Linked DNA regions of Homo sapiens. The protein of the gene in region 3 interacts with the protein of the main gene of each other region in a pairwise test. Each region holds a gene or a part of one and is shown on either strand. Other genes may lie near its edges. The genes, in order: RNF220, TRIM45 and UBE2E2.

Evidence for each region.
Region 1: the proteins of UBE2E2 (region 3) and RNF220 interact in a two-hybrid assay, tested with the Homo sapiens proteins (one large-scale study listed by IntAct).
Region 2: the proteins of UBE2E2 (region 3) and TRIM45 interact in a two-hybrid assay, tested with the Homo sapiens proteins (one study listed by BioGRID).

Annotation. Positions count from the first base shown.
Region 1 is NC_000001.11:44,411,645-44,415,296, reverse strand, and holds part of RNF220 (E3 ubiquitin-protein ligase RNF220), read right to left. Parts: exon of another isoform or gene 3,509-3,652; intron 3,317-3,508; 5' UTR 3,200-3,316; coding exon 2,575-3,199; intron 1-2,574. UniProt on the Homo sapiens protein: E3 ubiquitin-protein ligase that promotes the ubiquitination and proteasomal degradation of SIN3B. Independently of its E3 ligase activity, acts as a CTNNB1 stabilizer through USP7-mediated deubiquitination of CTNNB1 promoting Wnt signaling.
Region 2 is NC_000001.11:117,115,232-117,118,883, forward strand, and holds part of TRIM45 (E3 ubiquitin-protein ligase TRIM45), read right to left. Parts: intron 3,537-3,652; coding exon 2,803-3,536; intron 1,515-2,802; coding exon 1,385-1,514; intron 459-1,384; coding exon 344-458; intron 1-343. UniProt on the Homo sapiens protein: E3 ubiquitin-protein ligase that plays a role in the regulation of inflammatory response.
Region 3 is NC_000003.12:23,584,238-23,587,889, forward strand, and holds part of UBE2E2 (ubiquitin-conjugating enzyme E2 E2), read left to right. Parts: intron 1-3,652.

The DNA.
Region 1 (3,652 bases), on a different chromosome or scaffold from region 3:
GTTCTGTAGGGAGGACCTGAAAGGCATCTAGTGGGAATAATCAGGCCTTCTAACGACCCTTAAATATGTATTTACATAAAACAGACCATAAATATTCCGACACACGTCGGCATATGACAGGAGCCAAGAAAGCTGCTGCAGACTTTGTCTTAGTGCCTCTTCAACCCTTCCTTACAGAAAAATACTTCTCCTGCCTTCCAAAAATTCGCAATCAAAAGCACAAACGCTATCTAGTATGACCCAGTGAGGGATGTGCTAACCACCTAAGGTAAGGAAGGGAGTAAAAAGCACAACTCCAGGGTGACCACAGGGTAGCACAGCCTCCTTTTCACTTTGCACCTTTGTTTTTTATTAAAGATTAGTCACAAATGCAACTCTGGATAATAACGAGGGTGTACGAACACCCTCCCCTCACAGACACTCCTATAGGTTTTATGCTTGTGTACAAGAAAAAAAAAGGAGAACACAGGGTACTCTATAAGGGAAGACTATTTTAAATGAATAAAAGAGGAAAGGGACTCCAATTTGTATAACACCGCATTGGAAATAAAGAAGTTTCCCCACCCTTCTGATCAGAATCTCATTAATTTCAAGGTCAGAATTCCATTTCACTTTGGGAGACAGACTCATTTAATTTTTCTCCACCCAGGCGTACTCCTGTGTGAGGGATCCATCTCCATGGGGGATGCCACCACCACACAATGCAAACCAGGCAAACAGAAGAGTTATGGCTTTGACACTCAGAGGGGAATGGATATCCACGTCTATGAGTTCTGACTTGACTAACAAGCTTCCTCCTGCTCTGGAGTCGGATACAGGTTTGGGCTAAAAAGATAGAAAAATGGAGACAAGCTGGATCTGTTAGGTAAGAAGAAAGAGATCTCAATCTCCAGATGTTACTTTGTGGCATATTAGCTAAGAGAAGATTTCATTTTCAACTTGTATTTGGAGAAAAAAAGGGGCGGAATCTGTCACACCCTAACACAAGGCAGTTTTGGCTGGAGGTCACATTATAACTAGCCTTGATCACTTGCACATCACTGGACAAATGAAAACTAAAATAAAATCAAATGAACCAACACAATGCCGATACCTGTTCAGCAGGTATATCCAAGAAGCAGGATCACAAGACACACAAGTCAACAGAAACTGAAAAGGTGAAAGAGAACCAAAGCCAAAGTGAGAGGGCAACACTAGCAGTAGTGCTGTCAGCCAGCAGCCTTCTCCCTTAAGTGGGGAGGTCTCCGGCTTACAGAGGCTGACATAAAAGACACACTTGCAACATATTTCAAAACCAAAGAGCGATGGATTTACAAGGCAGGTTGATTTTATGATGACTTTTATTGAAAAGGTACGCTGGGTTTAGGCAGATGCCTTTTAGCGCAGGGAAGTTAACACAGTGCCTAATTCAAGGAGACAGCCTGACGAAGCAGTGGCGACAGGGGAGAGAGCTGCAATGTCTCTATTACTCTCCTCGGCATCATAAAGAGGAGGGAAAAAAATGGTATTCGTGTTGGTGGTTATAGAGAGGATGGGAGCACGAAAAAATAGAGAAAAGTGGAAGGCAAACCTCAGATGTAGTTTTCTTAAGAAAATAAAATGAAGCAAATCTGAGAACAAAGGGTTGCGTGGAAAAAACACCCTCAGTTCATAAATTCTCACCAGGCTTGAAGAAAACTGCTCTGTCTACCCACAGCCCAAAAGCTTCAAAACACAATTATTTTCTGATTATATTAGAGCAAAAGATTGCAGGGTTCAGCACTCCTAGTCTACAAGTTCCAAATAAAGGTTTAGTTCCAGCTATAAGTGTAGCCAGAGCCCAACAAGGCACTTGGAGAACATGAAAAAAAGCTGTTTCATAAGCAGAAATTAATAATAGTTGTGAACATCAAATTTGGAGCAGTCACACAGGTCAACCGTGTCTAGTCCTAAAAGTGAGCCCCAGGATAAGCATCCAGCAAACCTGTGAAATCCCAAGAGAAGTCGGCTTTCTAGCCTTGCGATCGCAAGGAAAACACAGCTGTGTGAAATGCTTTATGGTGATTGACGACACCTTTGTCCTTCTCTGAAAAATAGCCTGATGTGGACAAGGGCTGAGAGTTGTGAAAATAGAATCACGTGGAGTCTGCTGGATGTGATACAATGGAAAAGCTAAAAAATAACACTGAGATCAGACAAACATAACGAGGACAGCAAAGAGAGGAGGGGTGGACATGTTTCTTTAGGCCCCCCAAATTCCCTAGGAGCCGACACTTCTTAATGAAATGACATTCACTTCAGTACGTCGGTGGCACCCCTCTTCACTCAAGTCCTCAGAGAATAAGCCCACTAGGGTCCGGAGAGAAAGGCTGTGCTGGGGCCAACTTGCCTCTGGCTACTTTCAGAAAAATATTTCAAGAACTATCAGTGCTCACTGATAAGAGACAAGCAAAGGTTAGCACTCCACAGCTAGTGAAAGGGAAGTAGTTGGCCCTTCCTATTACTAGGAGCATGCAAAACGCCACCGACCTGTTGAACATCACGGTGAGGCAGGGCTTACTGGGGGTAAGGGAGGGCTGGAACCAAAGTACTTACATCTGTCATTCCGATCCTCTGGGCTAGATGAGGCTTCCCGATCAGAAATGAGGCCAGAGACAGCAAAAATCTTCTTCCCAGTGTCATCAACCTTTAGTGAACCGGGGGAGCTAGATGGCAGCTGTGTCCCAAAGTCATATTCCTTGCCATCTGCATCTGAGAAGCGCAAGTGGGGAGACTCTGTGTCATGGCAGTTCTTAAGTCGCTTGGCCGGCGTAAAGGCTGACTGATAGCTCTCCCGGTCCTCGGTGGAGGCAAAGGGCCGGAAAGCCCCCACACCACTATGATTCAGCATACTGATTGGGGTGCAATCTAGATTTGGGGGAGCAAATTGAGGGTGGAGGTGTAGTAGAGAAGGGGGGAAATCACGATTGGCAAAAGTGCCTGGCACCCCACCTTGCCGATGGTACATAGAGGCAAAGGTATAGGAACCGTTGGTGAAAGGAATATGCACGTCCTTGTCAACTGAGACAGGTACACCAAAGGGTCGTGGCTGCTGACAAGGGATGGAAGCATCACGGCTGGCCTCAGCCGTGGATGCCAGGACCATCAGTGCTGGGGATGCCAGAGGGTTGGGAAGGTAGGATGAGTTCTCCATCTTGAAGGCTGCCCGGTGTAAGTCCATCGGAGTCTCTTTCTGTGGCCGGCGTTACGCAAGAAGCAGTCTTCCCTGGGAGGGAGGCCAACCAGCACTTTGGGTCAGGGCAGGGAATATTACTGGGGAATCATTCCCTCCTAAGACCTGTAGAAACAGCAAAGAGAAAAAAAGAAGGGGGAGGAAAGTCAGGGGGAGGAAAAAAAGGGAAACCCCAAGTGATCGAAACACCATCCTTCTGGCTCACAGATGCTCGGGCAAGAGACACCACAGGCTTTAGGAGCCAGTGGGCAGCAGCATCAGACCATTTTCATTCAGGAAAATCAATAGACAACTTACTGTGATGTACGCGTAGCTGACTTTGGTCCCTACACGTTCTGGGTGAAATGCGCCTGAGCCCAGCAAAGAAAAAAATATCATAAAACCTCCAAATACGATATTCTCTGAACAAATGAGCTTTGGAAGGCCAAGCCATCCAGTAGA
Region 2 (3,652 bases), on a different chromosome or scaffold from region 3:
TGAGCTAGATTATATTTTTTGAATATGCATGGTTGTCTGCTGGCAGATCACCCCCTGTGATCAAGACATCTTCTCCATATTAAGAATCCTAAGAAACCAACTGGGAGAATGATAAGCTATAAGCATAACTGCCTGGAGGTGACACAGGGATACAGGGTTCTTATGGTCAACAGCATCCTCCAGGAAGAATAAGAGTAGCAAAATCTGGGCTGTTTCTAAAGTGAAGAAGAAGACATGGGGATTCTATTCAATCTCTCTGTATAGCTGATCCTATGTGAAATGTCTCCAGATCCTAAGACAGTAGAATCCAGGGAGCTCAGGGAAGCACGTGCACCAGTCTTACCTGCACATGCTGTTCTTTGATGCAGACCCACACAGTATAGACGCCAGGTTCCTTGGGGGTGTAGGAAATGTAGTATGTCCCATCCTTGTTATCCTGGACCATTGTTCTGACTGGGCTGAATGGAGATAAGAGTCAAAACACCACTCACTTCCACAAGCTGGCTTCAGTTGCTACTATTTCAGAATGTAAACTCTACACCATCCCATTCAGTATTAATGTTAAATATACCCAAACAGGATGCTTCTTCCATTTGCTTCAGAAGTTAATTTTACAACAGAAGGTAAACAGCATAAATTCCAATTTAGTCTGATATTCAGACAAATTCCTTGAATATATTATTGTGTCCTTTTCAACAGGCTTCTGTTGAACCCTCTTGCTCTGTTGTCCCTCCTCCATTCTACAATTCCAGAGAAATATAAACATGCTCCAGGCATAATTTAGTACCAAAGGGAGACTGAATTTTGAAAAGGGTACCATTCAGTCTAACACAGAATATTTTTCAACTTATTCTAAAGCTTGAGATGAAAACAATCTGAGGGGCAGACCATAGCTTTGAGAGAGAATTGAATACAAAACCCACACAAGAAAACACATTTGGTCACGTAACGTTTCATAGTATTATGGGGAGGTAAGACGTAACTAGTGAGTTACACTCCAATATCTTTTTTTTTTTTTTGGACCTGGGGTCTTGCTCTGTTGCCCAGGCTGGAGTGCACTGGCACAATCACAGCTCACTGCAACCTCGACCTCCTGGGCTCAAGGGATCCTCCCATCTCAGCCTCCTGAATAGCTGGGATTATAGGCATATGCCTCCACTCCCGGCTAATTTTTTTTTTTTTAATTTTGTAGAGACAGGGTGTCCCTATGTTGCCCAGGCTGGTCTTGAACTCTTGGGCTTAAGCGATCCTCCTGCCTCCACTTCCCAAAGTGCTGGGATTACAGGCATGAGCCACTGTGCCCAGCTCCAATATCTTAAAGGACCTCATGTTTCCAGTTTTCTCACTGCCTGTTATCCATGACACCTAATTGTGTCATACAAACCTGTCTTTCTTATCTTTAGGGACAACGGCAACTTGAACGTTGTCTCCTCCCCTGCCCATGATTTCTCCTGCGGCATCCTTACAAAGCAGGGTGAAAGAGGCCGTCTGTTTCTCCCGGGCTCTGTGGAGGTCTGAAAAAGATAAACACTCGGTCCTCACCTCGAATGTAAACTGCAGTGACTACATCTCCATCTTGCTTTTTCTCTTCAGAACAAAGGGTTGTACTTTACTGTAACCACCCTGGGTCCCTTTGTTTTCTCTTCCCCTTCTGCCTCCCAGAGTACGCCTCTTGGGAGTCCTTCCTGGTTGGCCTGGTTCTCTCAGCTAGCAGCTGCTTTGGATCACACAGGATCCTGGACCTTACCTTCAGTCCTAGGACTGAAGGTCCTATGCTTTAAAAATACTCACGACTGACCGAGGTATTTAAAGAAAACCTCTAGACCCTGTGAGAGAGGATAGTAACCCCAAAACCACCCTCCCTAAGCTCCAGATCCTGCTGGGCTAGGCAGGGAGTACAGCTGACCAGCCTCACGACCCTCCATGTTTTGAGATCCTCTGCAACTTGGTAGCTCATGCCAAGGTACTGGGGGGATATCCAGTAGCTACAGCCCCTACTCCAGCATTCAGATGAAACAGGGTTTCTTAACCTGAGGTTCATGAACTACTATGAGGTCTATGGAAAGGCTTATGAAGAGTCTAAAAATCTGGAATTGTATGCACAAGTTACTGGGTGTTTCTGTAGGAGAGAACATTCTCAAAGAGATCTATGGCTTCCAAACAGTTAAGAATGCCTGTGTCATTAAGATGCAATCTTCCTATCAGGACTGACCTACTGACCTGTGAAACATATGTTTTAATAATATGCTTCCATTAGAAAGGGAACACTCGTTAAAAAAAACCATTTTTTCCCCCAATTAAATGAAACACCTACCATATCCTTTTAAATGCCAGTAAAGTTGATGTGAACCAAAAAGGGCCTAAAGGAAAGGAAACCGTAATCTCATCTTCCTCATTCCTCTGAAACTCCCTTCAGAACTTGATCTAGGAATCCAGGGCCTGCCATGCTCCTCTCTGAGCAGGCAGAATTTCACCTGGCCCTAGTCACTGCTGTTACCTCCAACGGGCACTGTCTCTGTTCTGCCATCTGATAGAAACAAAACATGATCTGTGTGTTTCTCAGCCATTATTACTTCTCTGAACTGGAAAAGGGTCAAGCCTCACTCCTGTATTAACTGTACCCTAGCCAGAACAAACCAGAAAGGGCAAAGGTGGGGGTCACTGTCTTTCAGATCAGTTTATCTCCCCACCTTTGGTAACCTGGTCAGTAGGGCATGCTTCCTAGCAGAACAAGCCACCAATCTTCACACACCACCTCCCTGTCCACTGCCCTCTCAATGTCAATGGGAAATGCCTTCCTACCTTCTCCTTGTAGGACACATTTGGCTGGATCAACCTCTTTGGTATTAATCGTACCATAAATTTCATAGCCACGGCACTGGCCTGCTTTCTCCTGAGGACAGAAGCGTATCTTATCATTTACTCCAGGACGGGTGCTATATTGAACTTTGTTCAGCTTCCTGAGCCGTTCTACCACCACCCTCTTGGTGATGAGGATCTCCAAGTCTGAGCCGCTGGTCAGCAAGTGCTCGGTGAACTCCACTCCAGTCCGCATGTCTGCCAGTAACTGTTCCAGCTGGGCCTTCTGCAGCTGCAGGGAATTTTCCTTCTGGGCCCGTATGTCTTCCAGCTGCTTCAGCAGCTTGTCCCGATGCTCCTCAATGGCCTTAATGTAGCCCTCCGAGAATGTCCGGACATCAGCTGCCACTGCCTCCACTCGCTTCTGGAGGGCACTGTTTATTATGTGGATCTGAGCCAGGGCTTCCTCCAGGGCCTCCACGTGGGGCTGAGTACCTTTGAGGAGCTCCCACACAGAGTCCCCATGCTTGTGGATGACATTGCTGGTGAAGTCACAGGGGTGTTCCCGATGCTCCCCCACCACACAATCCTGGCACACGGGCCGGTCACAGAACTCACAGAACAGCCTCAGTTCCTCTGCAGGGTGAACAGGACACAGGATGGGCTTCCCAATCCGGCTGTAGCCTTTCAAGTCTTTTAGGTCCACCATGGTGTGGTAAGTCGTTTTCTTCTGCCGCCTAGGGGCAAACAGAATCAGTAACAGGAAATAAGGGGATAATTCTGTTGGGAATAGTTGGGCAGAGAGATTTTAGGAGCACAGGATCTGAAGTTAAACAAACCTGATTTCAATTCC
Region 3 (3,652 bases):
CAACCTTGCATCCCAAAGTTAAAGTCTACTTGATCATGGTGGATTTGCTTTTTTGTATGCTGCTGGATTTGGTTTGCTAGTATTTTGTTGAGGATTTTTGCATCTACATCCATCGATCCCTTTTAGTCTTGTTCCCTGTCTCTGTCCTCCCTTTTCTAGGTGGGACTATAAACCCTTTGGCTTCCAGGGTACCCAGTGTAGCTCCATCCATTAAAGAGGCAAGGTGGGAGTTGTCTGAGCCTTTTTCCTCTAGAATCAAAGGTGCACATACCACAGATCTCAAAAAATGCGAAGAGGTAGATTACGCAATATGACAATCTTTTTTTTTTTTTCTGGAAAGACGGTCTCGCTCTTTCGCCCAGCTGGAGTACAGTGGCGCAATCATGGCTCACTGTAATCACGACCCCCTGGGCTCCAGTGAACCTCCTACCTCAGCCTCCCAAGAAGCTGGGACCACAGGTACATGCCACCACACCCAGCTGTTTTTTGTTTTTTTTTTTTTTTTTTTTTTTTTGTAGAGATGGGTTCTCACTGTGTTGCCCAGGCTTGGTCTCAAACTCCTCGGCTCAGGCCATCCTCCTGCCTCAACCTCCCAAAGTGCTGAGATTACAGGCATGAGCCGCTGTGCCCAGTTGGTATGACAGTCTTTCACTCGCTTGCAAATAATAGTGATTGTTAGTTGACAGGTATGTACTCTTTGCTTCTAAATTGTGTAGGGAGACAGAGGTGAGATAGAGGAAGTAGAGGTGAGTAAGAAGAAGGTATGTTCCCCTTCATCAGTGATCTTGCAGTCTTACGCTTTCATTCAGGTTATTATTTTATGACTGGTATTTTGTTAACAAAAATGCCATGATGCTGGCTTGGAGCAGCGGCTCATCCTGTAATCGCACCACTTTTGGAGGCCAAGGTGGGAGGACACTTGAAGCTAGGAATTTAAGACCAGCCTGGGCAACATCTGCCGTCTCTACCAAAAAAAATAAATCAATAAACTGGACATGCTACTGTGTGCCTGTAGTCCCAGCTACTCAAGAAGTTGAGGCAGGAGGATTGCTTGAGCCCAGGGGTCAAGGCTGCAGTGAGCTATGATCCCACCACTGCACTCCAGCCAGGGCAACAGAGTGAGACCCTGTCTCAAAAAAAAAAAAAAAAAAAGACATGATTTTTATTAAACAGATGAGGAAATGTGATTTAGAGGAAAGCTTTGTATACCTAACTTCCATCTCTATGATATTCTGTTAACCACACTGTAGATCCTATACTTCTGCCTCAGGAAACCTCTAATACATGCCGTACTGGTGTTTGGGAGAATTAAGTACTTGAAGTCATCTAACTCTGTTCTGCATAAGTCTGAACATGCTCCTCTTTTCAAAAGTGTAAATAATTTTTGAACAAAAACAGAAAATGTGGGAGGCTTTGATTTCAATTTACTTATCTACTGATAAATTTTGTGGCTTTTCTTTAGTAAAAATGAGGAAAACTGACAGATGATAATCTCAAATATTAATAAAGATTTGGGAAAATAGTAACAATCTAGAAACCCAAAATGATGGGAAATATTTTCTTCTTGTTAGAGAAATAGGGTACAGTAATTTATGTTTGGAGCCTGGCTTGGATGGCAGAGTGAAACTGTCTCAACAAAAAAAAAAAATTATTTGGTTGATAACATGTTTTTTTTTTTTATTACCTTTTAGTGTTGCTAAATTCATGACTTTTATTTACCATTTATTAAGTTTAACATTCTGCTAAGAAACAGTATTTTCAGACTTTCACATTGAAAAGTCCTCCCTTAATTAAGCATATACAATTTACCATTTTCAGCAGAGATCCATTTTCACAACTAGCTCTTCAGGATTATTCCACTGAGCTGAATCTTTATGTGCAGCATATGAAAAAGTAGTTTGTAGCCTTTTTCTCCTTTCATGAAATATTAGCTTAAACATCAGCACTGCTACTGGGGGTAATATTCAGAAAATCATAGGGACATGTAAATTGATATGAGAAGATAGTTACTATGTTGAATAGAATTTTAAGTGAACATCAAATACTAATTGTTAGTGGTCTTTTTTATTTTTTTAGAAACAGAGTCTTGCTCTGTCACCCAGGCTGGAGTGTGGTGGCATGATCACAGCTCACTGTAGTCTTAAACTTCTGGGCTCAAGCGATCCTCCCACCTCAGCCTCTCAAGTAGGCTGGACTACAGGGGCACACCACCACACCTGGCTAATTTTTGTTATTTTTTTGTGGAGTTGGGGGTCTCAGTGTGTTGCCCAGGCTGGTCTTGAACTCCTGGCCTCAAGCTGTCCTCCACCCTCAGACTCCCAAAGTGCTGGGATTACAGACGTGAGCCATCTGACCCAGCCAATAACATGATTTTTTTAATTCCTTCATTGTGTATTTTTACTTTATCCCTTCATTTTATACTTTAAACAAATTTAAGATTTGTATAACTTCCAAAGATGCATGCATGGTAATGGTCCTCACATCGTTGTTTTTAAAACAAAAGTTGGAGAGTACCCAAACATCTAAAAACAGGAAATTCGTTCTTAATTCAGGTATTAGAAATGATGAAGTAGATCTACAATTATCTATGTAAAAAGTTATTTACCATATCGGTATAAAAATCATAGTTATTTTTTAAAAGATTACAAAAGCAGACTATAAATTAATCCCTTTTTTTTTTTTTACATCATGTGATTAGAAGTGTAGGAAGAAAACATACCACGATGTTAACAGCAGTTTTCTTTGCGTGGATTTATACACGAGATGGTCTTTACTTTCAACTTCCTGTCTTGCATATTGTCTGAGGTGGTTTTCTAAATTATTATTAATTACTGTTTTATAGTTAGTGTGTATAATTTTACAGGTGGAAAAAAAATTTTTTAATCAAATTTGAAAACGTAAAAGAACCTTGAAAGCAATTAAATGTTAAGCATGCAAAAAAAAGTTTGCACAACGCACGCTAATTGTTACCAGCACTCTAACTTGTTTTTAATTGTTTCTCCTTTTGCCTGTACTGAAATACTATTAACAGTTGATATGACACATTTTCCCACCCCACAGCTTCTTGTTCCCTTTATTCTTCATTTGTTTCCCTCCACCCCCTTTGAGCTGAAGTGGCAGACCTGTCTTATTCCCAGTGTGTACACTCTGGATGTGGGTACAGTTTGAGGTGGAACATATAAGTCAGTGTTATTCTTCTGACATTGAGCCTTACCTTCATCAGTAAGTTAGAATGGATCTTCAATGTGTTTCACTAATATAAGTTCTATTTAATTAAACACCTATCTTGAGTGATACAGACTTAAACTATTAAGGATGCCCACGTTTCACCCTACTCTTTGCATTCTAGAATGCCAGGAATCAGAACAAGATTACTTTTTTTGAAGGTAGAGAAATGTGACTCAGATTTCACTTTGGCCCCTATTACTCTAATGTCATTACTTAAGCTCAAGTGAAAGGCTACATTTTTAAAAAAGTATCCTGGCCAATTGCCAGATATTTTGTGTCTGTATTTGGTAGTGCTGGTTTAAATCTTGTTGAATCTTGACTGGACTGGGTGAAATGGTAGAGTTTTCATTTCAACATCTGAGAAAATGAAGAAGAATCACAAAGAGTAGGCAGAGAGGCAAACGTTTCGAACAAACCCACATAC